Regions from separate parts of the Homo sapiens genome. Here regions 1, 2 and 3 are each linked to region 4. The links come from fine-mapping of genetic effects on gene expression. A gene starts in region 4. Each other region holds a variant in brackets. All regions are shown on one strand. Distances are between the middles of the regions.

Region 1 (7,802 bases), 38 kb after region 4:
CAGGGAAGTTTTCTCAAAAAAGGTCAGTTTTTTTCAAATCTCCTTGCCTGCTTTCACTGCCTTTGACATCTGTGGTTGAACCTTAAGACAGAGGGAGGAATAGTTGGGTGGATGGCAGGTGCATGTGCAGAGACACCTGGGGGAAGGTGACCAGGGTAAAATCTGGATGGTAGGATCTGGGGGTTGGGTCTGTTGGTGCTCACTGTAGAATTATTTTGGCTTTTCTATATGTTTGAAAACACAATAAAATGTTACAGCTGAGGGGGAAGACAGAGGTAGAAGGGATGATGGCTCAGGATCTTTGGAATCCCTATGATTTTGATTTCCTGCTAGTGACTTCTGTGCAAAGAGCAGCAGAGTTCAGCTAGAGCAAGGTTCCCCAACCCCTGGGCCACAAACTGGTACTGGTCCATGGCCTGTTAGGAACTGGGTCGTACAGCAGGAGGTGAGCAGTGGGTGAGGGAGCATTACCACCTGAGCTTCACCTCAGCAGCAGCATTAGATTCTCACAGGAGCATGAACCCTATTATGAACTGCACATGTGACAGATCTAGGCTGTGAGCATCCTCTGAGAATGTAATGCCTGATGATCTGAGGGGGAACAGTTTCATCCAGAAACCAAATCCCCCCACCCCACGCACCCTCCGTGGAAAAATTGTCTTCCACAAAACTGGTCCTTGGTGCCAAAAAAGCTGGGGACCACTGAGCTAGAGAACACTCGCTGCTCTAGCCAGGGCTGGCTGCTTTCTCAGGCTGGCAGATGTGGGGTTGAGTCTTTGCAGTCAATAAACCCAGGCTCTTGGGTGGAGATCAAGCTCTTTTCTTTTTTGTCTTCCTGTCCGTCTGGATCAATGCTGAGCACAGAGGGCATTTGCAAATACTATTTTTGAGTGCACTGGCTAATTGGCTCTTGTATGGGTATATTTCTCATTATGTTGGCAAACCACAAGGGGCAGTGAAAACTGAGTAACTGATATGTTTCTCCGTTATAGGTATTTTTTGAAGCTTAGCAGGTGTCAGGGTCTGGGAACACGAAGCTTAATGACAAGAACACTGCTTTTAAGGAGTTTAGAGAGAACAGTGATCATTGCAGTGTGATGTGATGCTGTGGCGTAGAGGTTTGCTCAGGGGGATTCCAGCTCACATTGCTTGGGTAGGTCAGCTGTGGGGGCTGTCGACCACTCCTGGCCTTTACCCCCTTGGCCTCTCCAGTGGCCTCCCTCAAACAGCCCCTGAACGGGCCCAGCCTCTAACCTCAGGGCATCTCTGGGCCCCAGAAGGGCTGGGGAGTCAATGCCCAGGATCAGCTTTTATCAAAGAGACACTGACAGTGAAACCATCTCCCCTGCTCCTTGAGAGGCTAGTACTGAAGATGACCTACCGGGGTCCTCAGCAGGACTGAGTCCTGAGCCCCACATGTCCACAGCACCTCATCAACACACCCTTCCTTGGTTCTCCTCCCTTCCCTGGTTCACTTCCTCTCTCCCCTGGAAGTGCTTCCTAGAATCATCTTCCAAATAAACCACTGCAACAAAACTTTTCTTAGTGTCTGCTTTCGGAAAAACCCAAACTAAGACACAAGACTTCAGCGCCTAGAGCAGGGAAGTGTCGCTTGTGGTGGGCTAGAGCTTCCATAAATGTGGAGACAGGGGGAAGGGTGGCATGTTTGGGAAATCTTTTTAATTGAATTAAGAAAACACCCAGTTTTAAAAAATCATCTAGAGTGGAGTTTTCTATCCTTGGCACTATTGACATTTTGGGCTGGAGAATTCTCTCCTGTGGGGCTGTCCTGGGTGCAGCAGGAGGTTGAGCAGCATCCCTGGCCTGGACCCTTTAGTTGCCAGTAGAGGCATCTCCTCCCAGTTGTGACAAACAAAAACATCTCCAGAGGTTGCCATGTGCCCCCAGAGGGCAAAAGTCACCTCCAGTTGCACTGATATAGAGCTTCTGGAGGAGTTCCAAGGTACATCATCCTTCCCAAACATCCCTGAAGTGTGGGGTACTTGTGTGCGGTAATGGCATATTTCCTTCTTTTCTTGGGCTTAATTGGAGTTGAGTAGGGTGAGCCCTGATCCAATATGACCAGTGTCCTTATGAGAAGAGGAGAGACACAGAGAAAGAAGGCATGTGACAATGCAGGGAGCGATGGGAGTGAGGTGCCTCCAAGCCAAGGGTTGCTGGCAGCACCAGGGGTGGAGGAGAGAGGCATGGAATAAATTCCACTGTGAGCCTCCAGGAGGAACCAACATTGCTGACTCCTTGATTTTGGACTTCTGGCTTCCTGAGCAATGAGAATAGAGTCCTGTTGTTTTAGGCCCCTGGTCATTAGTTACAGCAGCTCCAGATCATGAGCCCACCTGCCTTCCAGCGTCCTCACCTCTGGACTCCTGTCAGCTTCTCAGAGCCTTGTCTTCCTGCATGTGGTTGAGGAAGCTGAATCACCAGAATATGTGGTGTGCTACCCGACAGCCTGAGAGTAATACCACATTCTTTCTTTGCTTGCATTTAATTAGAGTTGGCTTGAGGCACTACTAGCCAAATTTGGCAGGAAGCCATCATCACTAACTTTGAGGGGCTGTGGTCCCTTCCTATGGAGGATGCTTTTACCTCAAGAGCATCTCTTCTGTAGTCCTGAAGATGTGTCTACCAGGCTTTTGTTCTCCATTGGGAAGAGCCCTCCCAGCTCAGCCAGGTTGCAGCTGTTGTGGCTGCTTCCTAGGGGCCACAGGATGTGGCTATCCATGGCTGGCACCTGCAGGAGCTGGAGTCTCCCATGCAGTCAGCTCTCTGCCCTGGTGGAGATGGACCAGGGGAACTCTCCCTTCCCACTCAGAGCGCAGCTCCTCAGATGTCAGCCCTGGGACCCAGCTGCCCTGGCAAGGCCCCTGAGGGTGGTACACTACCCAGGCTTTAATCCCTGTCTCCCAGGGAGCCAGAATGTTGTCTCCAAAAATTCAACTCTATGACCACTTTCACTTTCAAACTCTCTAACACAGAAGGTCCATTGTTCAACTTTCTGGGCAGAGTTTAGTTCTCAGATGAGTTTAGTAGAAGCTCCAAGCACAAGGCCCAGTGTCCATTTTCCCTAAGCACAAAGGCCGATTCCTGCCCCTGGGAGAAAGGAGGGCCAGACCTGGAACTGCCCCACTCTGGGGAAATTGCTCTCATTCCTTCCTAAAGAGTCCACGCAGCAAGGGCAGCATCCTTAATGCAACACAAGCCTGTTTCCTGTTCTGACAGAGGCCAGAAATCCCACGAAGTCAGAATGAGACATCGCTGGGCAGGACTCACATCCCTCATTCCCTCTGATGTGTAGCAGATGACGGACTGTGGGTCCCTAATGTTGTGGTTAATCTGTGGGTGAAGCTGAACACTGAGCGACACAATTTGCTCCCACTGTTCCCGACTCACCAGATGAAAGTGGTTAGTTATGAGTGTGGAACTGGGTGGTGTATCTACCCTCAAGGGCTGCTCTTGTGTGGCCCCCACCACACTGTCCAGGGCACCTCTGTCCTCTGCAGGCAGGTCCCTATCTCCCGATGCCCACTGATCCCACTGACTCAGCACTGTGGGCTTACAGGGCATCCCTTAGAGGGGCCAGGTGAGGTGAGAGCTGCCCTGAGCAGAGTGGCTGGTGCATTGAAGGGATGTGTGCAGCAGCCTGGTGCAGAGTGGAGGGGAACTGTGGGCACCAGACCCACCAGGAGGAGGCTGAATAGGGCTGGGTCACAACTTCAGTCTGCTTGATGTGAATGGGGCGCTGTTAAATGCAGGTTCTCAGGCTCTGGCTCCCAAACTTTGAATTTGGTGGTCTTAGGAGTAG[C/G]TTTTTATTTGTGTTTTAAATTAATATTCCCAGGTGGTGTATGCACAATGCCCTGAGAAGCAAGAGCTTCTTATGTTTTTTGGGGGGACAAAGGAATGGATACTTTATTGTGCAACCTCACCCTGGTGGGAGAGCTGAGGGATTCCTTTGTACTCCATGCCCACTCCATCCTGGTGTGGTGGTGAAGACAGCGGGAAATGAGAAGGAGCTTGCTTGTGCCTTCCTGCTCTTTTCTATGAAAGGCTGGCACTAACAACCCGATCTTTTCTTGGGTGCCCCTCTTTTGGGTTCTGAGTACCATCAAGCAATGCAATGGCCTGTGATGGTTCACCCAATCCCCAATCTATGAGGACCATGGGTGCTTAAAAATTTATCCTGATAGGACAATGGCTCTCAAAGTGTGGCCCCAGGATCAGCAGGGCCAGCATCAGCTAAGAATTGCAAATTCTTGGATCCCACCCTAGATCTGCTGAGTCAGAGTCTCTGGGGTAGGGCATTTTTAAAAGTCCCCCAGGGGATTCAGCTGTATGAGAACCACTGCAATAAAGAATAATACGTTTTGCACCAATACAGACCAGCTGTATTCAGCTCATGTTTGCCATGGGGAAATTCAGCTCATGTTTGCCAACACCAGAATTGGTGGCCTTGTTCCACCACCATTTTGATGCCCATTTTCCAGGGAAACCAGAAGGCATCCCATCTCTCTGTCTCTTTCCAAGCTGGCTTGTCTCCTGCCAGAAACTTTCTCTGACCTCCTTCTCCAAGGCTGGGTGATGAAGGCCTCGTCTCAGCTCCCAGGGCTCCTTCTCTCACTAGCAGACCCCAGAAAGCAAGCCCCATGCATCATAGCACAGGCCAGGAACAAGGTGATGACCCTCCCATGATGGTCTTCATGATGACCATGAAGTTGGCCAAATATCACTGCTGGCAACATTGCTTGACTTCTACCCATAGAAAGGTGCTGGGTATTAGTCAGGGTCCTCTAGAGGAGCAGAACCAATAGGATGCGTGTGTGTGTGTGTGTGTGTGTGTGTGTGTGTGTGTGTGTAGACAGAGATACTGATTTATTTTAAGGAACTGGCTCATGTGATAGTGAAGGCTGACAAGTACAAAATCTGCAGGGCAGGCCAGCAGGTTGGAGACCAGGGAAGAGTGGAAGACTTGATGCTTCAGCTGGAGTCCAAAGGCAAAGGCAGTCTGGGGGCAGAATTCCCTCCTCCTAGGGAGAGGTCGGTTTTCCCCTAAGGCCTTCAACTGACTGCATGAGATCCACCCACATTACAGAAAGGAACCTGCTTCACTCAAAATCTACTGGTTGAAATGTTAATCAACTCTTAAAAATACAGCAGGTGTTTGACCAAACATGTGGGCACCATAGTCTAGCCAAGCCACCACATAAAGTTAACCATCACATCAGTGACACCATGGGAGCAACACAACTGTGCAGCTATCTGGAGAAGTGTTAGGTGGGAGACATTGTTAAACTGCGTTGGATGCATGTATCTGCTCAAGGACATGCACATGTACACACATGTCTGCACATGCATTCACAATCACATGTGCACATGCACAGATACACACACATGCACACACACACAATGCATGGATCACAGCATGAGGCAATGACCACACAACAGTGCCCATGAGGTGAAATCATTAAACTGAGGTCTTGATTTGACCATCCTCCAAACACACATTTTTCTATGTAACACAAAGCAGGTCAAAAGCCATTCTGCATCTGCCCAGAGCCCATCTCCCAGAGGCCAGGTCTGTAACTCACAACCCAAGGACTTTTACTGGTTTCTGTTTGATCCTCCTCTCTAGGAAACTAGCCCTTAATGCATGAGGAATGAAATTCTCACTATCTGCAGCTAATCAAGCCATGTTTGTTATCCCTAGCTAGTATGACTCATTAATTTTCTGCCATGGTGTTTACCTCACAAAAAGTATTCTAAGTAATCCGTGCCTGCCGTGAAGAGTTTAAATGCAGTATTTTGACTTTTAGTGGACAGTGACGTCTTTTTACCGCAATCCATTTCTCTCCATTCTTAAAAACAATGGGGATAAAAATCGAAGTGTTTGAAGAGCTACTCCTTAAATACTCTGACTCACACTGGACGATCTCACTGGTGTGTGCTTCTTGCAGGCAAAATAATAGACGAGTCTTCGTTTTCCTGGGCTTTTAAATTCATGATGTTTTCAATAATTTTAAACTTATGACAGTGAGCACATTTAAGTGAAAGTTTTTGAAACTGTTTTTGTCTTGTTTGCCTTTGTCTGTGATGTGTTTATACAGGACTGTTTCACAACTATGCTATTGTGAAAGACATGAACAATGAAGATGTGTGAACAAGCTCTCATGGCCCAGGGGATTATAGCTGTGCATGAAGTAGTGAGTGGAGGAGGGGGCCAGCCCAACCCTAAGCAGGGGCTGCAGGCAGCCCTGCGGACTTTGCTGGAAAGCCTGAGCCTCTCTGGGAACAGGGCACATCTCTTGAGCAGAGTCAGGTCATGGAGCGGCTCTGGTTGGGGAGGAAGGGGCAGCTCCAGCTGCTAAGCTTGGCTGAGAAGATGCCACTGGCCATTCTAGGGCAAGTATGCCAAATGCTTCTGTGAGCAAATGCCTTTGCTTTTGGTTGCTTTCATCAAAGTTTCAAAGAGATCTGTGACCCTCTTCGTTTGGGTGTTTGGCTGGAGTGTGATGAAGGTGTGACTGCAGGGCCTTGTGGTGGAGGCAGGAGTGTGTAAACAGCCCCACTGGGTGTGGATGATGCATGAAGATTCTCAGTTGCTAGTTGAGTCACCAGGTTGGTGGCTGGAAGCTTCTTCAGAACTGGGCAAAAACAGTAATGAGATTGATTCCCAGCTTTTATTGGCCTAATGAGCTGGCACTAATTTGGACATGCCACTTCACACTCAAGTTTGCATATCTATAAAATTGAAAGGGGGCAAAGTAATCCCTTAATAGTAGGCATTTTAACATGGACACACTCGGGTGCACAGAGTGCCAAAGTGTTGGCCAGGCATGTTTGCAATATGAAAGTTTGAACTAGATTTCTCTTGGGGAATTCATATACACATTATAAAATACATGGTGTATTTATATGAGCACTGGGGAAAGAAGTGACAAGAGATTTGTGGAGTGTAGGTGAAGCTGTTGAAGAAATCCAGTCTGCATTCAGCTCTGTACTTGGCAACGTTTCTGGAAGGACTAGCAGCAAACGCTTCTATTCTGGGAACAGTCTCTCCCACCTTTGCACTTTCCCCATCAGGCGGGTGTGGGCCTTGGTGATTAGCTGAGTCTGAAAATAAACGGCGCCTCTGTCTCCAGGGTCAGATTCCAGATGCTGAACAATAACCTGCCAGCATGGGGGAGACTGAAACAAAAGCCTCTCAGGAAGTGATGCTCCATCTTGGTTGAGGAGTTGGCACGTTTCCAGAAGGGATGTCTCCCGGCTGTCAGGCCATCGGGACTTTCAGCGTTCTGCATGTGGCTCCACTGCAGAACACACACACTCAGAACAGCACCAACATTGTGTCAGCACCCCATTATAACTTCCCCTGTTTTCCTTTCCATAAACTCAAGAATTCTTCTCTGGCAAATTTCATTTTATGGAGATGCTAATATTCTTCATCTAATTCAATTTTCCCGCACCCAAACCTTCACCCATAAGAGACAATATCACAGCCTGAGAGAGGAGGCTGGCTCTGTAGGAATGGCTTTGAGAGCATTCGAATCTTCTCATCATTATTTCTGATGAATCGAGACTGGCAGGCATTAGCCAAAGTCAGAGGAAATCAACTAACACCTCTCTCCCATTACAAAGGAGAAGTAACTTAAGAAGTAACTTAAGAAGTAACTTAAAAAGTAACTTAAAAATGTTGAAAGATGTCATGTGTGGTGGCTCACGTATGTAATCCCAGCACTTTGGGGGGCTGAGGCGGGAGGATCACTTGAGGCAAGGTAAGGCGTAGGCAA
Region 2 (7,802 bases), 77 kb after region 4:
ATTTTTGGGTGGGTGTCTCCCTCTCTCTGTGCAGTCCTGGCTTCTTCCTCTAGATGAATCTTCTCTTCATTGTCTCTCTGCAGGGTGTCTCCACCAGGGAGCTGTGCTTTATACAGCATGGTTCAGGGACCCCCAAAAGCACATGGCTTGGGCTGCCAGGTCTTCCTAGGGTTTATTCTGGAAGTAGCACTACATTATTTCTGCCACCTTCCATTGAAAACAGGTCCCAAGCCCAGCCCAGATTCAAAGAGAGGGGATCACCCAAAGGCTCGGATCCTGAGAGGGGTGGCCATTGGGGACATGAGGCTACTCCTACTCATATCTTCACTTCCATCTTTGTACCCCATTGGAGTCAACACAGAGCAGGGTGAGCGTTGTTCATGAAGGAGGGAGGGGTGAGTGACCCATAACCAATCTAGTATTGTGTGTGTGTCAGTCCCAGCCTCTGCCTCCCAATGTACTGGGTTTCAAAGGCTTGTTTCCAAGTTTGTTGTTTGGAGCTTGGGTCCCATCTCATTGAAGACATAATTGTCCCTGTGGTTGCTTTCCTAGGCTGGCCACACAGATGGTTACTGGGAGAACTGTACTACCATTCCCACATCTGATGTGAGGTGGGAAAAAAAGTTTGTGGGTGGGTCTGGAAGCTGACTGCCTCTTTTCAGCATTGATCGTATGGGAAGATGGTTCTGGGTTTGTCTGTGTAGGAGCACCTGCGGCTCACCTTCTGGAGTGGTGGGCCCCAAGCTCTGTGGCCTCCCCTGCCTCCACAGCCCTGTTCCTTGCTGTGTCATGGGCCTGGTGGCAGCAGGCTTGGGCTGGAAGTGTGCCTCTGCCACTCATTCCCTGGGCAACCTTTGATCCCTGCGTTCTGTGTCTACACAGAGGGGAAAGAACAAGAAAACACACAGTAAGTGCCAGCTCCTGTATGCTTCCACCCTCAGCCTCCTTCTCACCACATCAGGCTCTAGGCTCCTGGGGCAAAGACTTGGGTGCCCTTGGGGTCTCCACTGTGCCAAGTTTCTGTTTGTTGAAATACCTCGAGATTGAGTTTAAAATTTGGCATTACTTTGAACTTTAATTGACCAGTGGAGTCAGTTTGAATGTCCAAGGCTTTTTCTCCAGATGCTCAATGATTTTAGGGCTTTCTTTAAGGCAACCTTGTCCAACTTGCTTTATTTTGTTGTTGTTCTGTTCTGTTTTGTTTTAGGCTTTTAGCAGTATGAAGCCATGGTTTTTAGTTTCTGTCTCTAGTGATAAGTGGAAAAGAGGGACGAGGAAGGGGCTTTACCAGCCCAATCAGAAACAGAAACTAAGAACCCATGACTGTGTTCTCTCCCTTGGACACCCTGGCAGGGAGTGGAAATTATTGAACACTAAGGTAAGCTACAGCTTTTTATATTAAAATCACTTATACATATGCAAAAAAGCAATAACATGTACACTATTATACACACTCCCACAGCAGAGCTTATGTGGAGATATGATGTGTTTTTGTATCTACATTTTGTTACTTTTCTATAAGGAATATGTATTAATCTATTATGTCATTTTATTTTAGATAAATGGAGATCACTATAGCCTTGAGACTAAATTTTACTTGCAGAAGAATGCGGAGAACCTCTTCCAAACAGCTTTAGGAAAAGGGAGAGCTCCTCCCTCCTTCCATTATCCACCAGCCTGTGCACCTGGGAGGAACTTTACCACCTGCAAGGTGACACCTCCCCACCCGTCTACTCTGGAAATTACAATATCTACATTATCAATCCTAAATGATTGTTGTGTGTCTCAGAAGAGATCTTATATACCAAAGTATAAGCTATCTTGGGTAAGCAAAAGAGCAAGAAGTAGATTATCCCCTGCAAAATGGGGAGATGCAGGCCTTCAGAGTAAAGCAAAACTGCCTTCCAGAGAACAAGGGAAGGGTTTGGGTTTCATAGCAAAAAAGGGTTCCACCCAGGTTCCCAGTCGGATCTGTTTATGCAAGTGAAGGATTGAAACTTGCTTAGTTCTGATTGGTGGATTGCAGCTGAGTTTGATTGGTGAATTGCAGGTAAGTTCTGATCGGTTGGTTCAGATGAGTCCTGAAAGTCCCAAAGGGGAACTGCAGTGTGGGTTTTGGGGAAATTCAGAGTACCTCTAATCAGGAAATGGCTACTATTTTAAATCTAGGCCTATTAGCCACTCCAGATCCACCACAAAGGACTCCTCAGGTTCACATTTGTTTACACAGCCTAACCTGAAAAAAACAATCTGGAGTGACAGAAGCTACCTTATTATCTGCCAGCTGACCTACTCCTTGCAGAGAAATCATATTGCACAGATGGCCTCAGAGTCCACCCACCTCTAACATTTGCCAGGTTCACCAGTGAAGTTCAAAAAGAAAGTATGATTATCCCCAATTTAATGAGGAAACCGGTCTGCCCAGAAAACACATCTCATGCCTCCCAGCTCTGTCGGTGTCTCAGCTTGGAAGTAAATACTATAGCAAACTGTTTAACACTATCAAAAATATCCTCCTCTGATAAAAGCTAGTTCAGCTGCTCTTCTGCAGTGAAAAGAGCCCAGGTTCTTTGCCAGGGCCCAAGGGTGCTGAGTCCAGGGGCATTTGCCTGAGACCTGAGCTCTGTGGAATTCAGAGCCCACACCAGGGTGAGCCCAGAATGCGTCCCCTGGGCAGGTTGCCAGGTGGAATCTCTAAGCTCCCACACATGTAGCAGCCAAAAACAGTGTCAGTCCCGGACCCCCAACTCCATGACCAGTTTCCAAGGCTACAGTGATTTATCTCCCATAATAAACCTGAAATACTAGGAATTAGTCCATAGCCAGACTGGTTAAAAGTTGTTTTAAAATAGCTAAAATCAGATTAGAAAAATCTAGTTCTCTTTCCTTGGAAAACATTCCAATCGGATGGAGAGCCCAATAGAGTAATTACAGAAGTCAGAGTACCACGTGGTGCCTTGAATCTTGAGAAAATGAGAAAGTGAGGCAATAGGTCCCAGGCCTCCTTTATTTCTACCTGGGAAGCTACAAAATTGTTTAAAATGTGAGAAATCTCTGAGACCCCATTGGAACAAAAATAACTCTACGTCCCATAAATAATTGAAACCAGATATTTACTTTTCTAGAGCAGGTGGGAGGAAA[T/G]AGATGTAGAGAAGTCAGCAAAAGAAAGAAAAGGTTCTTTTTGGAAAGTGGACAAATAGGAGATGAATGTCCTGAATCATTTTATTGCTGGTAATAATGCCTTGGGTTTATAGGGTGGCTTTCTTCTGCAGATCTAAAGACATTTTTTATACCTACTATTTTGCTTCTGTTCATGGCAACCTGAAAAACAAGACACGGTTGTAAAATAAACATCAGATGTGGAAATCCTGCTGAAGAAAAAGACAAAAAGGCCGGAGAACCCTCACAGAGCTGCATGCCCACAGGAAAAGGAGCACCCTCTCCTCACTCACTCCACAGTGCGCAGAGGGCAGAAGTTGAGGAGGCAAATATCTCAGCTGCAGCTCCTAGTTTCTACAGAGGCTCAAACCCCTCACCAGACCAAGCCGCTTTCTGTTTCCATCAGAGGAAGCCAGAGAGCAGGGGTAACAGGTATAGGGGTACTTTTTATTTCTAAACATCTTTTTTTATTTCTTTTTATTAATAGGCTTTATTTTTTAGAGCAGTTTTAGGTTCACAGCAAAATTGAGAGGAAGGCACAAAGAGTTCTCATATACTCCCCACCCCCTCAACCATATGCACAGCCTCCCCCACTATCAACATCCCACTCCAGAGTGGCCCTTTTGTTACAGGTGATGAACATGCAAACATCACTATTAACCCAAGGCCATAGATGACATTAGGGTTCACTCTTGGCGCTGTATAGTCCATGGGTTTGGACAAATGTACAATGACGTGAATCTACCATTACAGTATCATACAGAGTAGTTTCACTGCCCTTAAAATCCTCAGTGCTCCATCTACTTATCCCTCTCTCCCTTCCCCCATTCCTTAGCAACCACTGCCTTTTTACTGTCTCCCTAGTTTCACATTTTCCAGAATGTCCTATAGTTTGAATCACACAGCATGGAGTCATCATTTTACCTATGGATGCACAATTGTTGCAGTATCATTTAATGAAAAGGCTATTATTTCTCCATCAAGTTGCCTTTGAAACTTGGTCAAAAATTAGATGTTCATATAGTGTGGCTTTATTTGTGGACTTTCTACTACACTCCATTAATTGTTTTGCCTGTATTTTCACCAAAACAACACTATCTTGATTACTGTAGGCTTTTCATAGATCTAGTAATAAGATAATATTCATTCTCCAAATTTGTTTTTATTTTTTTAAGTTGTTTTGACTATTGTAGGCACTTTGAATTTCTGTATGAATTTTGTAAATTCTAGATTTAGTTATCAAATTTTTTTAAAAGCCTACTGGAATTTCTATTTGGATTGCACTGATCCTATAGATCAATTTGTGGAGAACTGACATCTTAACAATATTGAGTCTTCCAACTTATGAACATAGTATATTTTTTCCTCCATTTAGATCTTTACTTGTTATCAACACCATTTTACGGTTTTCAGTACACAGATGTTTTACTCCTTTGAAGCAGACTAATTCCTAGGTATCTTATTTTTATGCTAAAGTAAATGTTATTTAATTTTCAATTTCTAATAGTTTGTTGTGAGTACATAGACATACTATTGATTTCTGTATATTAATCTTCTATACTGGAAACTTGCTAACCTCACCTGTTAGTTGTATTAGCTTTCTTTGTAGATTCCATTTCATTTCTACAAAGATGATCATGTCATATGCAAATAAAAGGTTCTACTTTTTCCTTTCCAATATAAATGCCTTTAATTTCCTTCTTTTGCCTGATTGTACTTGTGAGAACCTCCTCCAGGTTGAATAGAAATGTGTTTTTTCTAATCTTCAGGAGGAAAGCATTTTGTCATTTACCACTGAGTATGATGTCATCTGTGGGTTTTTGGTAGATGCCCTTCTGGTCCTTGTTTGATGAGAGCTTTTATGTCAAGTATATGTTGAATATTATCAAATACATGTTTGTGTCTATTAAGGAGATGATACAAGTTTTTCTTTTTTAGTTTCTTAATAGGATGAATTATAGTGATTAAGATCTTAAAGTTAAGCCAACCTTACACACTTGTGGTAAACCCCACTTGGTCACAATATCTACTGCTTTTGATATACTGTCAGCTAGAATACAAAAATTTTGTTTAGATTTTTTTGCATTTATGTTCATGAGAGATATTAGTCTCCACTTTTTTTGTCTAATAAATTTGTCAGGATCCGGGGTCTGAGTAATGCTGGCCTCAGAAAGTGTTGGAAAGGATATCCTCCTTTTTAATTTTCTGGAAGAATTTTTGTAGACTCAGAACTCATTCTCTCTTTAATGTTTCGTAGAACATACTAGTGAAGCTACCTGGGAATGGAGGTTGTGTGTGTGAGAAGATTTTTAATTACAAATTCAATTTATTTAATTTAGAGTTATTCAGATCATCAATTTCTTCTTCAGTAAGCATTTGTAGTTTGTGGTTTTTCAAAGGCTTTGTACATTTCATTGATGTTGACAAATTAATTCACATAGAACTGTTCATAATATTATCTTATTTTCCTACCATTATCTTTTGATTCTGATGCCACTTTGCTTTTCTGATTTTGGTGATTTATGATTTATTTTCTGATCAATCTTGCTAAATGTCTATCAATTTTATTGATCTTAAAGAAACAGCTTTTGGCTTTATTGATTTTTTCTATTGTCTTTCTGCTTTCTATTTTATTAACCTCCATTCTGACCATTTTTACTTCCTTTCTTATACTTACCTTGTGTTTAAGTTGATCTTTTTTTTTTTTTTTTTTTGTACTGTTAAGGTGGAAGCTGAGGTCTTAACATTTGAGAACTTCATTTTCTAATATCAATGTTTTGTGCTCCAAATTTCCCCCAAATGCTTTAGTGATAATCTAATAAATTTTTATTTGTTATGTTTTAATTTTCGTTCACTTTAAAACAGTGCCTAATTTCCCTTCTAATTTCTTCTTTGACTAATGGCTTATTTAGAAATGTGTTGTTTAGTTTCCATGTTTGAGGGATTTTCTAGAGATTTTTCTGTTACTAATTTTTAATGTAATTTCATTGTGAGTAGAGCACAAACTTTGTATGACTTGGAATATTGTATACTTTTTGAGGCTGGTTTAATGGCACCAAATTTGAGTTATCTTGGTAAATATTATGTGTACAGTTGAAAATAATGTACACTATGTTATTATTGGGTGGAGTGTTCTATAAATATCAACTAAGTCAAATTAGTTAATGGTGTTTAAATACTCTATTCCTTACTGAGTTTTTGTTCACCTGTTTTATCAATTATTGAGAGAGGGTTACTAAATTCTCTGTCTATAACTATACAATTATATATTTTTCCTTGCAGTTATATCAGTTTTTGCTTCAATTGTTTTGTTTTTGTTGATATTTAGGATTGTTATTTCCTCTTGATAAATTAATCTTTTTGTCATGAAATCTCTTTATCTATTTCTGCTTATTTCCTTTGTTTAAAGTCTAATTTGTCTGATATTAATGTAGTAGCTCCAGCTTTATTTGATTAATGTTAACATGTATTTCCTAATTATGTATTTTCTATGGCCAGCATATAGTTGGGTCTTGCTTTTGCAACCAATTAGACAATCTCTGCCTTTTTATTTGAAGTATTTAGACTATTTACTTTCATGTGATTATTAATATGGTTGTTGATATGAATATGATCATCTTGGTATTTATTTTCTGTTTGCCCCTTTGTTCTTTTTTCCCTTTTCTCTTATTTTTTAAACCATCTTTTGGATTAATATATTAATTTTGACTATTATAATTCTTTAACCGTAATTATTTGCTAAATGTTCATTTTATGTCCCTTGTTGGCTTTTGTTTTGTTTTGTTATTCTAGTGGTTGCTATAATTTTTATATACATCTTTTAGGTGCTATTATACCACTTCCATATCATATGAGAACCTAAAAATAGTATATTTATATTTTTCTTCTCCCCAACTTTGTTCTATTATTGTCATATATTTTACTTTTACATACACTGAAGACACCACAGAACATTGTTATTATTTCTGTTTAAACAGTTAATTATCTTTTAAATATATTTAAATAATAAGAACAAAACCTGAGACGATGGGGTTTTCTAAATATACAATCATGTCATCTGCAAACAGGGACAATTTGACTTCCTCTTTTCCTAATTGAATACCCTTTATTTCTTTCTCCTGCCTGATAGCCCTGGCCAGAATTTCCAACACTATGTTGAATAGGAGTGGTGAGAGAGGGCATCCCTGTCTTGTGCCAGTTTTCAAAGGGAATGCTTCCAGTTTTTGCCCATTCAGTATATCAGCTGAGGGTTTGTCATAAATAACTCTTATTATTTTAAGATACATCCCATCAATATCTAGTTTATTGAGAGTTTTTAGCATGAAGGGCTGTTGAATTTTGTTGAAGGACTTTTCTGCATCTATTGAGATAATCATGTGGTTTTTTGTCCTTTGTTCTGTTTATATGATGGAATACGTTTATTGATTTGGGTATGTTGAACCGGCCTTGCATCCCAGGGATGAAGCCAACTTGATCGTGGTGGATAAGCTTTTTGGTGTGCTGCTGGATTCGGTTTGCCAGTATTTTACTGAGGATTTTTGCATCGATGTTCATCAGGGATATTGGTCTAAAATTCTCTTTTTTTGTTGTGTCTCTGCCAGGCTTTGGTATCAGGATGATGCAGGCCTCATAAAATGAGTTAG
Region 3 (7,802 bases), 68 kb after region 4:
GTGGCTCTTTGTGATAGCAGGATTGAAGCCCAAGGCCTTCTGCATTTCCCAGCCACCCCACATGGCCCTGTCCTTGGTTACAAGATGGCATTTGCTTCCTCAAGGGCCACGACAGTGTCTCCCTGTGTACGCAGCAAGACAAAACCTTGTACGGTATATACACATACAGCAACTTCATCTCGCAAGGGACAGCCCATCACCTTGCCAGATCCCATTGGGAGGGTCACAGGTCCTTCCCACACTCAAGGGGAGGCAATCACATGGGGGAACACACCAGTGGGAGACCCCAGGAGCCATCCGGAATTCTGCCTAGCCCCCATCTCTCTCTCTCCCCTTACAGTTGTTCATTCTGCAGAGAATTTTTTTTCTTGAGTTGAGCAACTTATTTTTAAAGCTGATTTTCTGCCAGAAACTTCTTAAAGGAGCCAATTTCTCTTTTTCTCTCTTGTTCCTCTCTCTTTCCTCATTAAGCTCTCCCTCTCAACATTTTAAGCCCTTCAGAATAAGGTACACTAGTTTTAAACAGGTATGGCACAATCTCTTTATAACAGCTCATTGAGAATTTATAGAATTTTCAGCATTTTAGAGCAGAGGTAGCCTGCTGAGAGACCTGTGTGTTTAAAATTCTAATAGTCTTGGGGGAAATAAGACTCCCTCAAAACATTTCCCATCGTATGCTCCTGTAAAAAGTTCCCCCACAACCTCTTAAAGACTTCTTGCAGTTAATTTGGAAAAGTTATCTCATGGATTATTTCGTGTGTATGAAGACCTGAAATGATGGTGTGAGTTTCAGGGGACTCACAGACAGTCTTCATTCTGTACCATTCCTCACCTCAACTGCTGACACGCAGCTTGCAGACCCACCCCACAGCTCCTGTCCAGGCTCAGTGGCCATACTCTCTACACACCCCTGTCCCCCAGGAGACAGGACTGAGGCAGACACACTCTGAAGCAATGGTTTTCATCGTCTCTGCCTGCTTGATGGTTTTCATTTTATTTATTTATTTTTTTTTTTGAGAATGAGCTTAGGCAGTCCTCAAATGAGGGGCCCACAGATGCTATGGATTTGACCTGCATAGATAGTGTTTGGTAGGGGTAAGAACAAAAGAAAACGCCCCTCAGAAACTCTGAAATCCAGTGCCACCTGTGTGACAGATAGCAGACCCAGGGCCAGTGAAACTGCCCTCTGTGGAATGCAAGCATGCGGGTGACTTCTCTTGTTCCTGGACACCTGGCCCATGACCACACTGTTCACAGCAGGGCTCTTTCCTCCTCTGCCCAGGAAAGATGCTGGGAAAGGCTGTGGGGTTGATTTACAATGTTTCCAGGAGTACTGCTGTCACCAGGAAGCCATGGCCTTTGGCAGCGTGGCCCTGCAGGGTGTGAGGGGCATCTGGGCAGCAGGCGGGTTGGTGCTGCCAGGGAGTGTCCCCTGCACAGTCCACTTGCCTCCAGCCAAGGGGAGAGCTGATCTATTGGGAGCAAGAGAAACAGAGTTGGGGGGCACGTGAGGAAGTAGTCCATACGTCGGGACATGAGTGTTGGTCAGTCATAGGGAGGTTCTGGAAGATTTGGGGTTTGTTAATGATGATCCAGTCTTCCCAGGAAGGGTATGAGATGGGGATTGAGGCCATTAGTCAGATTAATGTTTCCCAAGAGAAGAACAGGCTTGTTAGTTTTGGGACACAGATGGAGGAAGGGCTGGGGGATATTTGTGGTCTGCTGAGAATGAATCGCTTGCCCAAATGACTCTGAACTGCCGAATCATCTCCCTGAAAGGATTCTCCAGTGAGAGTAACCCCCTTGCTGTTCCAGTCAAATGCCTTTGAAAATATTTCTAAAGTGCATTATTCCAAAGGCTACTTAAAGTTATGTATCTTAAGGGTTTCAAATAATTCTATTGACCAAGATGCTATTGATCTTGACAAGAATTGGCTTAAATCTGAAATAAAAATAAAAGCTGGCTTGTTGAAGACCTGAATGAGGCTCTCTCTCCTGCATGAAGGCAGGCAGTGGGTGCCACTGGCCAGGAAGGGGTGGAGAGTATGCTACCAGTGCCATCTACCAGAGCCCAGGGGCGGAGGCCCGCTTTTGGGGGTTTATGAGATCACTGGGCTTGGGACCCTGGTCGGCCCCTGATGTGGAGTCCACCTGGCGTTTACTGCCTCTGTGTCCTTCGAGTTTGAGTTCACCCATGAATGAAATGACATGTATGAACATTCTTCATAAACTAAAATACTTGTGGGCTCTCATACTCAAAAAACCTGTGGAGCATTCCCCACGCTGACCATCAGTCATGGAAGGAGTGTGCAGCCTATCAGAGACACAAGCTCCTGCGCCACACGTTATGACCTTTCCCCCAGGAGACAGCCCGAATGAGTCCTTTCCATTTGCCCAATAATGGAGTGAAGGGCCTGTGAGGCAGCCTGACCCTCCAGGCTGGTGATGGCAGCTACTCAGCTGTGGAGCTGGTTGCAACTGCTCATTCTTCTACAGCAGGAGTCCCCAACCCCCAGCTACAGACCAGGATTGTCTGGGGCCTGTTAGGAAGCAGGTCACACAGCAAGAGGTGAGCATTGGGCAAGCAAGCATTACCACCTGAGCTTTGCCTCCTGTCAGATCAGCAGCAGCAAAAGATTTTCATAGGAGCATGAACCCTATTGTGAACTGTGCATGCGAGGGATCTAGGTTGTGTGCTCCTTATGAGAATCTAACTATTGCCTGATGATCCAAGGTGGAACAGTTCCATCCTAAAATCATCCCCACTACTCCCACCGGCTGTGGAAAAATTGTCTTCCATGAAACCGGTCCCTGCTGCCAAAAAAGTTGGGGACCACTGTCCTACAGTACTTTCTCTGAATTTCAGATTCATCCTTTCTAGTTCTTGTTTCTGACCAAAAAAGGCCCAGACACCCCGCTAAGTAACCATCATCAGCTTTTAACATGTGTTTCCAGGGTATCAGCATATGATACCCTGGAAATAACTCTTAGGGATTTGTGCAAGACTAGCATGGGAAGCTCCTCGGAGGTCATGTGTGTGACCCCCCAGAGGTTGCGTGTGTGGCTCCCAGCCCCAAGTCCCCCCGACCCCCACCCCAGAGGCCGTGTGTGTGCCTGCCTGGAGCACAGGCTCTGGGTTCATTCCTCTGCAGCTCCAGCTGGCCCGTCCTGGGCAAGTAGATTAACCACTCTTGGCTGTCTAAACAGAGAACATGTGCTGTGCTTATTCCTGGTCTTGTTGAAAGCCATTTTTTTCACAATCAGTCAAGTGGCTTCTGACTATGACTTGGCTTCCCGTGTAGCATAGCCACGGAAACCCATGTGAGTGGCCCAGTGAGCTCCAGGTAGGTGCTTCAGTCTTAGGAGCATTGAGGAAGGGGGACCTTTTCAGAGACTGAGTCTGGACCCTGGCAAGGGTTGACCCAACTGTCTGAAGGCAGCATAGACACGGCTGGCCCTTGGTATAGCCATGTCATTTCCTGTCTGATTGCCACATCCACTGGTGACACTGTGCACTCAGACGATGGCCTCATCGGCCACCCGCAGGCACAGTGAAGCCACAGTGCCGGAGGCTGGCCTTCAATATAGCCATGTCATTTCCTGTCTGATTGCCACACGCATTGGTGGCACCATGCACTCAAGATGATGGCTTCGTCGGCCACCCACAGGCACAGTGAAGCCACAGAGCCAGAGTCGCTGCAGCCCCCGCTGCACCATTGACAAGCCAGGACTCACACGGTCAACTCCTCGGGCCTAGAAAACAGCAGAAAGGGAAAGACATATGGAGCACATCCTGGCCTTGGTCTGTGATCAATGGGGACGTCCAGCCGCAGAGATGTAGGGCTGCAGTGAGGTTCCTGAGGGTGAAGAAGTCTGTTCTCTGCAGACAGCTGAGGAGAGAAAAGCAGAAAGTGGTGAAGTATCTGAAGGAGAAGAGGAGAGGAGCATGCCTGCTTCGAGCTCTGTGTGAGCAGATGAGGAACACACTTAAACACATGCCTGGGAACACCTGGAGGAAAAATGGCTTCATCAACCAGAGTCTTGCAGGTGAAGTGTTCTCTCTCATCCTGTGTGCTATGAAGCTGGGGTGGCACCAATGAGCCTGAAAGCTACAGTGCAGAAAAGGCAAGGGTTCAGAACTCAGGCTGCTGTGGTCCCCAAGATTAGCAACTGTGGTCAGCAGTGGGTGATGCCATGTGTACGACTATGTCTTAAAACCACCTTCAGACCAGAGATCCCACACTTCCTAATTTCCTAAAATTCTGTCACTGCATGGACCACATGTAGACAGGTATATAAGCATTTATAATCCAACGAGGGAGAGCACACTAAAAGACTGAAAAAAAAGAGAGAGAGAGAGAAAGAGAAAAGACCCATCCTGCTCTGAATTTTAGTGGGTGTTTTGTTGGAAGAAAGTGAAAATAAGAATAGACAGAAAAGGCAAAGGTAAGAAACCTAGAAAATAAAAAAAAA[T/AT]CTGAAAATCAGAGAAAGTTAAAAACATAAAGCAAAACCACACAGGAGAAAGAAGAAGAAAAGGGGAATAACCAAAGCAAATGAGAATATCTGAGAGACAAGAAAATCCTTTAGGCACAGCTAAAAATAGAAAAAGTAGCTCTTTTTATACATCTTCATTTAGGAGATTATCTGAACACTGAGATTTGAGGCATCTGACTTTGAGGTATCATGTGTACATAAAAGTAATCAAATGAGCCATTTAAGCATGTTTCCTTGAAATAAAATGTTAGTTTTCAGTTCTTCCTTTGAGTTGACGAAAGATATGCATTCTCATAGAGCCCCACTTTATTATTTTAGTATAAGATTGGAAAAAGCATATTATATGTTTAGTAAATTGGATTCAAATGAGACAATGTATCAGAAAATGGAATTTTTAATTTGGTTTTAAAATGTTCCTATTTAAGAGATGGTCAAACAGGTGTGAGACAGAAGAAAAGAACATCAAAGCGGGTGGGGCCAACGAACCCTCACGTCTCTGCAGATGGAAACAAGGCCGTGGTTATTGCGGTCTCACGTGCTGTGCATCTTCAGGGCTCTCGCTTGTGAACTTTCTGGCCTATAACATTGCAGCTAAACCTCAAAGATCAAGGCTCAGGCACTGTGTTTGCCTGGAGGTCGTTTACTGCTTCCACCCAGTCAGCTCTTGTGGTTCATTAGTTTTGCTGCAGCAGCGGAGAGGGAAGGAGTTTGACTGTGCAAATGGTGCCCGCAGAGCCTCCAGGCACACACAGGGCAGATCCTTTCTAGAATTTTTTATAGCTTGCATCATTCAATAGCTCCAGGCTGTCCCCAAGCCCCATCTTTCGGGTTTGATGGGTTGAATTGTGTCCTTTCAGAATTCATAGGCTGAAGTCCTAACCTGTATCCACACCCTTCTTCCTTTCACTTGTGTGTGTATCATTTTCTGGATATTTGTAAATGTTTAGGCTCCTAGGCCCTCCCCATGCCCACTAATCCCTAGCTGGCCCCTCAAACAGGTGGCAGATGCTGTTACAATGCCCATTGTGCTTAGTACATCGGTGGGCCTGGATGATCTGAGGCCATCAGTCCGTGGTCACTTTGGGGGTTCAATGTTAACTTTGGTGCTGAAAACACAGTTTGCAGACCTTCAGCACAGGGATCGCCCGGGAGCCTTTTAGATATGCAGAATCTTAGGTCCCACCCCAGACCCACTGAATAAGACTCTGCATTTTAACAAGATGCTGGAGTATTTCACATGCACTGTCCTTAGACCATGTGAGGGACTAAGTTCCTAAGCAGCCAGTCTCCTATTATGCCACCCAAAGGAGAACTCTTTGCTCTAATAAAGCAACTGAATTCCACAGAATCTCTAGAGTCTTGAGGCTATTTTCTTCCTATTAAAAACTATTATCAAATTTTGATCCTTACATTATCACCCTCCTCTGCATCATCATTTTCTGATTCATACAAATAAACTTTGCAGTGGAGTAGACCCTACAGTTGGGAAGTTGGCTCCAGCACATCTGCTAAGAATTTGCTGGGAATGTATACCTTCCCAATAACATTCCTCTTTTGCTGCTGATGAAAGTTCTACACCTTTCAGATGTGTGTGTGTGTGTGTGTGTGTGTGTGTGTGTGTGTAGAAGGTTAATTGATGCTTTTTAAAAATGTGGCCCATTTGAAGCTTTGAAAAGACATGCTCCTTTTCCCACTAAAGTGATGGCCAACCTATCTCTGCCATCTCAGAGACTGGCTCCCTGTGACACTTGCAGAATTATTCCACTGTGTCCCTCCTTCTGCCAGACACAACCAGCCACCTTTCCCTCTTGAATCTTTGGACTTACCTTCCAGTGGCTGAAAGGGCCAAGCTTACGTGTGTTCCTAGGAACAGTCTGCCTACAAGTTATCACCTCCATACCCCAAGAATGAGCATCTGCTCCTTAAGCTCCCCCATCCAAGACACTGGAAATTTCTTCAATGCAGGGAAAAACATTTTACTTCATTATTAGGAGATGGACTTGAAATCAAGGTAGACCTGTGGTACACTGACAGGCCCCACCAGGTGGAGGTAATGAGATGCTGGAAAGCAGGGCTGGGTCTTTGGAAACAGGAATACCAGGATATGGGGCCTCCAGCAATGCATGAGGAGGTGAAGCTAAGGGTGTCAAGTTCAGCCTCACCAATTTCTTAACTGTACTGGAGCATTTTGGACTGTTCTAACATGGGATTTCTCTTTGTCAGTTAGGAGAGGAGTGGCCCTCTTCTCAGCAATGCCTTCCTGTCAGGGTGGTCTATTCATGAGTCACAGCCTTAAGTGAGGTCAGGTCACTTGCTGGCCCTTCATCCTCCACATAGGACTTTGGCAGACCCTTATCCCTTCCCAGCCCAGGTTTCTTGATCAATGGTACACATGATCACACCTGCCATGGGGTTTATAACTGGTAGAACAACTCTGATGAAAATGTCTGGACTTTTCAAAACACACCAGCTTTATTCCAGGATGGCCCCAGAATTTCCCAGAGATCCAAACAGAATCCTGGAAATCTGTTAAGCTTTGGATGCCCAGGACTGCACAGGTTTCTTAGTAGCATGAGAACAAGGAGAGCATGGTTCATGAGGTGAAAAAAATGCAAGAAATAAGGCTTAGAAATAAAAATAATGCAAGCAACCATTTCTGAAAGACTAGATGTACTCTGGAGATGGCCTGCTCTGTACAAACACATTCATAAAGTATTGCAGAACTTGGCAGTGGGTGCCATCTATGAAGCTCCTGAGTGTCAGTCTTTTCCTCTATATAATGGGGATATTAACATCACTTGGATTTAATGATTTGGTGCCACCACCAACACTGATATGATTTGCTGTGTCCCCACCCAAATCTCATCTAGAATTTTAGCTTCCACAATTCCCACATGTTGTGGGAGGGACCCAGTAAGAGGTAACTGAATCATGGGGGTAAGTTTTTCCTGTGTTGTTCTTGTGATAGTGAATAAGTTTCACAAGATTTGATGGTTTTATAAGGGGAGATATCTCTGCACAAGCTCTCTCTCTTTGCTTGCTGCCATCCATGAAAGACATGACTTGCTCCTCCTTGCCATCCACCATGATTGTGAGTCCTCCCCAGCCACAAGGAACTGTGGGTCCATTAAACCTCTTTCTTTTGTAAATTGCCCAGTCTCAGGTATGTCTTTATCAGCAGCATGAAAACGGACTAATACAGTAAATTGGTACCAGTAGACCAGGGTGCTGCTAAAAAGATACCCAAAAATGTGGAAGCAACTTTGTAACTGGGTAACAGGCAGAGATTGGAACAGTTTGGAGGGCTC
Region 4 (7,802 bases):
TCCCAGGGAAATTAACTAGTTCATCCTCCAAACTGAATCAAAACACCAAACATATGCCAACAAGCAAAATTTCTTGGAAAGCAAGATGTTTTTTAAAATTTCATTTAAAATAACTTGGAAAGGAAATAATGAGTCGGCCGTTACAAGGCTCCAGCAAAATTCCTTTGCTAATGAGTATTTTCCCTTGCTCTAGATTTCTTGGGTGACCTCGCTCTGCTTTTGGAGACAGTCCATTGCAAAATGCATGCTTCACACACCCAGCTGCACAGGCTTGGCCCATTAATGCAGCTCCCCTGAGAAATAACAACTGTTACAGACAAACCAGGTGAGGGTTTTGTATCTTTTCTCCCTTCTCTTCTTCAAAGCATGCAAGTCAGTGCACTTCCCTGGTTAGACTTACTGCTTCCCGGTGGCTTTTCCCCAAGTCCTTCTCCATCACAAATAAGGCTGGGACATTATGAGCTATCTGGGCATAGTCCAGGGAACCCCAGATATGGAGGCTGTGCCCCAGGAAACTCAGGCCCCGGCCCCGAGCATCTGCCTCCGTGAACACCATCCTGAGCTTCCAGACTTGTGTGTGGGAAGGCAAGTGCGTCTGAGCCAGGAGGTGTTTGACCGCTTTGCCTGTCCATGAGTCTTTTTAAACCTTCTCCATTCTGCTGCTGCTTCATGACAGCATAGGATAAATGATTCTCAAGATTTCCACAGGGATGAATCCACAGGGATGTGGAAATAGGCTCTGTGAGGTGGCTAAAGGCACATTCAAATAAGAGGCATCCTGCCCACGAAGGCTACCGGAGATCCTTCCTATCCCTTCCCAAAGCGGCAGTCTCACCTGGTGACTCGGCATGCGTGCCACCTTGCACCATGGACATAGCACACATGGCCTCATGGCAGCATCTGCCTTCTGAATGTACACAGGAGGAGACCGAGGCTGGGGGAGGGGGGGTGTCACTTGTCCTTAGTCACAGAGCTGGGAAGGGGCTGGGCCGGTGTCCGTGCCATCTGATTCCAGGATGTCACATTAGGGATGAGCTCTTTGGGAGGCTGCCACCTTGCCACTGGTTCTTTGCCTAGGTAGTGACAAGAGATTCTCTGGCATGTTTTAGAGACAAACTGCCTCATGCTCCCATGCCAGCAGAATGTTAGCATGTCATTCTGGGGGCACTGAAATATCTGGAAAATTTTGAAGCCAGGAAAATGGAGCGGCATCTGCAAGGCCGAAGAGCACCATCCACTGCTTGAGGAGCGGACCGTCACCTCGCTGTGTGAGCTGACCCCAGTCCGGCCTGTGAGCAGTGAAGATCCACTCACTGGGCACCAATCTGCACTGGACAATCTCGTCACTGATTTAACCCAACTGGCCTATTGTCTCTTACAGACACAGCTTCAATGCCTCAAAAATAGGATTCAAAAAAGGGAAGGAGACTTTATGCCCAGTAGCTATAACAGTAACATCAACTGAAACATGTTATTAACTGAAACTAGATACGATTCCACTCAGTCTATTCTTTTTCTTTTTTCTCAAACATTATACATTTCCAAAAGCTTAAGGAAAATCTTAAGGCAATTAATTTGGCAGAAAACATATGGCAGAGGAATAATAGGAAATGCCTCCAAAACTGATAAGAAAGGAATTACAAAGCCAAATATGAAGAAACAGAAAGTTTCATAGAACCCACAGCACAGCACCCTGGTTCCAGCTAAGGTAAACAGACTGCATAAGGCTGGCGGCCTGGCTCTGGTAACACTTGGGAAACAGTACAAAGTCCTGGCAGTTAAAGGGTTCTACAGCAGGGCAACCTCAGATTTTTCAAGATTGTGGCATGCTCAAATTCTCCTTTTTTTGGTAATAAAAATATACCTACAGTATATAATAAAAATATACATACAGCACAGGCATTGAGGAAGATGAAAGAGATACCATGAAATCAAGTTAATGTCATAATTTCCAGAAAGAGGAAACCAGTTCCTGAATTTTGAGAAATAAGATCCTTCGGCCACTATGTGAAGTTTCTTCTATAGGAAACTGTAGTCTCTACCCTTTGTATATGGTAGAAAATCAGAGACTCATGCATTTGAATAAAAATCACAATGATAAAGGGAGAAATGGCACTTTCAAAGATGAAAACTGGTTGAGAAATCATTCTCTCTAAATCTTAGGGGGAGGCTCTTAAGGGCTAGCTTCAGTTTGTATCTCTGGTGTTAGGTGATGGAAGTGATTTCAGAGGCCCAAAGTGAGTGCTTACTGGTTTGCTAATGAAAAAAGCCTGACGTGCGGTTCTTCTTCTATGGCAACAAAGTTATTCAACCTAGCATTAAGGTCTGCATCCATGAAATAATACTTTACAGATATGAACACTTCCACAACTCCTCAAGCGCACACACACACACACACACACATGCCCCGCACCATCACCACCTCCTCAACCAACACCAGCCCTGGGCATGGCCAGCTATCCTTGTTAGTCATGTATCTGCAGAGCATAATCCTTCCCTTGTACTTTCTAGGAATTATATTTTTCTTAACTATGCCTGCAAGATTTTCATCTATGAATAAAAAACATTGAAAAGATAAATTATGAATATGTGGTTATATACAAAGTCTGTGACTTCTAATGTCCAGATTTTAGAATGATGCCTAATTCTGGAGGTCTCAGAGGTCCAAGTGGGAGTGGGTACCATGAATGGGGGGGCCTCCATTTAAAAGTAACCTTCTAAAGAGCTCTCTGTTCCTGTAGCTCCCCTTTCCTTATTGGAAGGGTCAAAACGAAGTGTGTTCCCTTAAAAATCCAACAAGAAGTTCCTCTCTTATATCCAAATATAAAAACACCACAAAGAAATATACCATTGGGAGTGTCCAAAGCCAGAAAGTCAGAGGAAGAGAGAGAGAGAGAGAGAGAGAGAGACTGACTATTGGGAGACTCAAAAAGCCCAAAGCCCCTTCTCTAGCTGTTATCTCAGTTACGAACACAACGTACTGATTTTCCGTGGGAACCTCATTATTGCACTGTGGGGACTTCGTCTTCCAGCACCGATTCTGACGGCCCTAATTGCCTTGTTTGAGAAATGTTAGGAAAAAACTAATTTTCCGGCGAATATTGTTTAAAAGAATGATTTTCCCAGGCTAACGACCACAACCCTCTCCCACGTCCAGCATCCCCAGGCCCTGGCACTGTGGAAGCCTAACTTGTTAATTGTCCAAGGAAAACGACTGATGGAACTTCTCCACGAACAGCCTCTCCACTTTCATCCAGGTATTCAGCTCCAGCCCGTTGTAAACGCTCCGGGTGCGGTGGAAAAGGCCTCCTCCCTGTTCCTGCAGCGGCTCTGGGGGAGGGGTGCTGATGTGGAGCGCTCCGGCCGCCGTGGCGCGCCCAAGTCCCCGTCGCGCCCGGGATCGGTGGGGATTTTGTTGGAAAGGTGGGTCCTTCGGCCCCCAGCCCCCCACCCTGGTTCCGCGCCCCGCCCGGGCCCGCCTCTCACCTCCGTCGGCTGAGGGCGCTGGGGCCACCGGCATCCTAGCGGGTGGCGCGCGGCGGTGCCGGGGCGCCCGGTCCTGCGCTCGAATGCCAGATGGGCTGGGAGGCCCGGCAGTCTCAGCGCTCGCGACGTCGTTCCCGGGCCTGGGGTCCTGCTCGGTCGCGTCCTGCAGCCGCCTTCTGGTCCCTGAGTCCCTGTTGCCCGTCCCCGGAACCGGCTTCCTCGGCCTCTGCCCGAGCGAGTCAGAGACTAAACTTTTCCAGCGGCCCGCCGGGGCGGGACCCGCGCTCCGCCCCTCCCCTCGCCGCCCCCGACTCCCGCCCCTCTCCCCGCCCCCCTCTCCCCGTCCCCCGCCCGCGAACCCGGCACTCCTCCAGCTCCCCACCTCCCGCTCAAGCCGCCTGGTCTCCGTGCGCCCCGCCCGCCCCTAGCCTGGACCCCTTCTCCCCGACCCTACCAATCCCCTAGGGTCCGGCTCGCCCTTCGGCCCCTGTTCCCAGGCCGGCCTCCAGACCTTGTCCTCATCGGGCGAGCTCCAGGTGCAGAAACCGGGCGCCCAGAGACCCAGCGGGAACAGGCTTGGAACCAGGTCCGAGGTCTGGGCTTGGGCGGGCGCCTGTCGCCCTGACAGCGAGGGTTTGTTTGGGCCGATTCTTAATAGGAGGATTAATACTATCATTATCGTTGTCCAGATCCTGACCATTTCTTTTGTAACTGGCCGAGCACCGGCTTGGGCTTGCAGGTGGGCGCCTGGCGCCGGACAGCGTTTTTGTTTGGGCTTCTTCCTTTTCCGCGCGGGTCCCCTCCGGCGCCTGCCTGGTCCCTCTCCGCGCTCTACCCCCAGGCACGCAGAGACTTGGGCTCCAGGCGGGGGCAGCACTCTCCCCCAGCCTCTGCTGGTGCACCAGAGCCCACTCCGGCACAGAGCAGCGCCCCTCCTAGACCGGCAGCCAGCAGATCTCAGCCGACCCCCATGCGACCCCCTTCCTCACGCGGATTTGCCCCTTTTGTGTGGCAAAAATAATAATAATAATAATAAATCCATATGAAGGCTTCAAACAGAATTCCGAGAGAAGGAACTGCCAAATTTTCAATCAATGCCAAAGGCCATGATTGAGCGAACACAGAAACAACTGTAGAAGCTTGGGGAGAAAGGAGAAAATTAAAGAAAAAGGAGGAGGAGGAAAAGGAGAGAGGAGAGAAGCGGGAGGAAGAAGACGAAAAAGCAAGGAGAGGCCTGTTATCCGACCGTGCATTCCTGGGCCGGCAGGATTGGGCCGCAGGGGCCGCTGCAGAGAGTTGAGTTTGTGCAAAGGCCGCTCGTTACTTTCTGTCTTTTGCCCTCTTGCCTCCAGAGGATCAGCCCAGCGCATCCTTCTCTTGGAGCAGGGTGCATACGCTTATTTGGGGTGCAGTTTGAGCGGTGAAGGGCACCAAGAGTGGAAGTCGGCGGCACTCCTGTTCCCTGCAGAGAAACGCAAGCCCTCAGCAATTGAGCTGAAGGAGGCAAGTGACTCTGCCTGCTGAGGCTGCCAGCCCTAGAGGCTCTGGCCCCCGGGAGCTGGGGTACTTCCCAGCGTTTTCGCCTAAGCCACTTCGCCTGTGCTACTGTGGAGTCTTCCGGCACTGTAGCCTTCCAACTTGTTCAAAGTGCCTGGTGCACGGCTCTGAGAAGCCACTTCTGTCCCAAGTTTCATGTGGGCCTGAATGTGCTTCCCTTTGTTGGACTCCTACAGCATCAAGTCAAGAAAAGAAGGAAACATGCTCCTTTGGCATTGGTCACAACCAGGATAACAATACAGCATACTGTGGCCACTGTGTCTATATTACCAAAGTGGTCAGTAGGTTCATCACACCTCTGTTCAATTAGTTGCTTCCCGTGATGAAAAATTTACTGCTAGGATACTGGCTGAGGGTTGTTTTAAGGGGCACCCAAGTCTCCGTTCCTAGAGAAAGTCAGTTACCCTGATATAACAGAGCAACCTTGAGGCGTGGTGATGCCTCCAAAACTAGTCTGCGGAATCGGAGCCCAGAAGCCCTGAGGAGTAATGTGGCTCTCATGCTTTATGGCAGGTTTCCCTAAGAGAGACCCAGGATCTGACCCATGGCATCACTGAAATTCCTCTTTCAGTGAGGCTCCGTTTGCCTAAAGATCCCTGTCCTCAGTGGGTCTCCCCACACACGGGCCTCTCACTCACCCACTGCCCCACCCCCATCTGCTGCCCTCTTCCTGGGCCTTAAAGCTCAGACACTAGACTCTGACAAGGAGCCCTCCATGCCCCGGTAGAGACCATCTTCTCTCACCACTCCTTTTGAGAGAAACAGCCCTCCCTACAATTCTGTTGAATAAGTCTCCTCCTCTGCATCCTGTTTCACAAGTGAAAGCAGTTTAACAGAAGAATGCCAGCTCATAAACGTAGAAATGCGAGAATGAGGAAATCCCCATTCTGTAACCCTTAATGAAATAATTAAATCAGGCAGTGTGCACTAGTGGGTGTCAAACCCTTAGGTGAAAGTGTGCAGGCGAACGGGTGCTAATTGGAAAAAAAAAAGAAAAAGGTTTTCCATTTTCCATTTTTTTATGGAGACATCTGGCTGTACCTTACAGGAAGATCAAACTCAGTGTCACTAATACTGGCTCAACCTGGCATTATGTGATGCAAAAGAAACACACAACATCATTGTTGCTGTGTGCTTGCCAAAGATGCTTCAATTGAATCAATTGCAAAGCCTCTAGACTTTACTGCAAGTTTACAGGAAATGGAAGAGTTTGAGCCATGAGTTAAATGACACCATGGGAAAAACTGGACTACCAGAGTGTGGGCATTCTGCAGTCCTGAGCTCTTCCAAAAAAAATCAATGTCAAGAAAAAGGGGTGAAGGATTCTTCTGGTATAAGAACAGCTGAAAAGAAGAAGTATAACAATAAGTACAAATCCGGATTGACTCCCAGCTGGACAAATCAGCACACACACACGCACACAAAAACATTTTGGAGGAAATTACAAATTGGAGGGGATATTGACTGATAGTATAGAATTATTGTTAATGTTTTTAGGTGTGATAATGGCATAATGTTTGTTTAGGAGAATGGCTTTAATTTTAGGAGGTGCTGCTGAAGTATTAAAGGGTAAAATGTCTTCATGTCTAAAACTTATTTTAAATTGTTCAGCACAGTACGTGCACATAAGCTGATATGACAAAAGGTTGGTGATTATTGGTTCTACGTGGTGGATTTAGGGAAGGGGTTGTACAATCTGTTCTCCTTCTTTGTATCTTTGAACTTTTTCCATAATAAAAAGTTGGAGAAAAATAAAATGGCAGGTACTAAACAACTAAAAAATTTCTCTACCTTTGCGCTTAGACTTTAAATCAAATCTAGGCTTATGGGAATAAAATTGAAAGATACTATGAGTTATATCTGTATACTTTTGAAAATCATGTGGCCCCAAACTTAAATATGATTTGAATAAATGTATTATATATCACAATTATGTAATATAACCTTACATGCTTTTTTAATTAAAAAAATGAAATATATTCACTTTCCCAACAATTTAGTGTCCACAGCCTGGTGAGCAGGTACAGTGTGGTTAAAGGACATGCAGTTTTAAGATTCAAACTCAAAGTGAGCCCTTTCTCCAGCAGAACGAGTGCACCGCAGGAGAGCAGAATTGTCTCAGAAGAGCTGAGTAAATGCACCTCCTTTCTCGGTCCCCTCTGCCCTCCCAGCATCTGCTTCCAGGATCCCAGGGTGCCTCCCCAAGTTTCTGGGTCTGAGTTAATCTGCACTATCTCTACTCTTAGCTCTGTTTAGCGTAAAGGCTGCAACAGACAGTCATTATCTGAGTAAATGTGCATGCATGATATTTTTTTGTTTGTCTGAGGCCTCTTCTCAGGAAAATGTGTGTTGGTCACAGTTTGCACACATGAGCTTGACACTTCAAGTCCTGAAGGTTTCCAGAGGAGGACTGCCCCCTGCAAGGTGGGGTCTAACAGATAGTTATGATGGTTAATTGTATGTGTGAACTTGACTGGGGCATGGGGTGCCCAGATATGTGGTCAAACATTATTCTGAATGTGTCTGTGAGGGGGTTTCTGGATGAGATTGACAAGTGAGTCAGTAGACTGAGGAGAGCAGATGGCCCTTCCTAGTGTGGGTGAGCCTCACCCAATTAGTTGAGGGCCTGAGTAGACTGTTATTGAAGACAAAAAGCCAACACTCTCCCTAGTTAGAGAGAAGTCTCTAACTAGGAGAATCCTCTTAGGACTGGAACTGGGACCTTGGACCTATAGACATTGGATGTGTCAGCTTCCATA

Alleles and levels. Positions count from the first base shown, and alleles are read on the strand shown. Sizes are in standard deviations (SD) of each study's normalised expression. Not every link is listed here.
As copies of AT replace T in region 3, the expression in monocytes of the gene that starts at base 3,714 in region 4 goes up (moderate effect, 0.61 SD a copy in Quach 2016).

What was found.
Region 1: its variant is fine-mapped to the expression of S1PR3 in whole blood (INTERVAL, PIP 0.98).
Region 2: its variant is fine-mapped to the expression of S1PR3 in blood mononuclear cells (TOPMed, PIP 0.91).
Region 3: its variant is fine-mapped to the expression of S1PR3 in monocytes (Quach 2016, PIP 0.95).

Annotation. Positions count from the first base shown.
Region 1 is chr9:88,948,942-88,956,743 of GRCh38, reverse strand. No RefSeq gene overlaps it. Among named protein-coding and RNA genes, the nearest start is that of S1PR3, 39 kb to the left of the region's middle. The variant C/G (reference allele first, on the strand shown) is at 3,824.
Region 2 is chr9:88,910,598-88,918,399 of GRCh38, reverse strand. All of the region lies in intron 3 of LOC124902205 (a long non-coding RNA gene), which reads right to left. Among named protein-coding and RNA genes, the nearest start is that of S1PR3, 77 kb to the left of the region's middle. The variant T/G (reference allele first, on the strand shown) is at 3,142.
Region 3 is chr9:88,919,581-88,927,382 of GRCh38, reverse strand. LOC124902205 (a long non-coding RNA gene) reads right to left here. Exons shown (of 4, transcript XR_007061654.1): 4 at 1-3,890. Among named protein-coding and RNA genes, the nearest start is that of S1PR3, 68 kb to the left of the region's middle. The variant T/AT (reference allele first, on the strand shown) is at 4,474.
Region 4 is chr9:88,987,380-88,995,181 of GRCh38, reverse strand. It overlaps S1PR3 (sphingosine-1-phosphate receptor 3), which reads right to left and starts at 3,714. Exons shown (of 2, transcript NM_005226.4): 1 at 3,487-3,714. RefSeq lists a silencer at 3,874-4,168.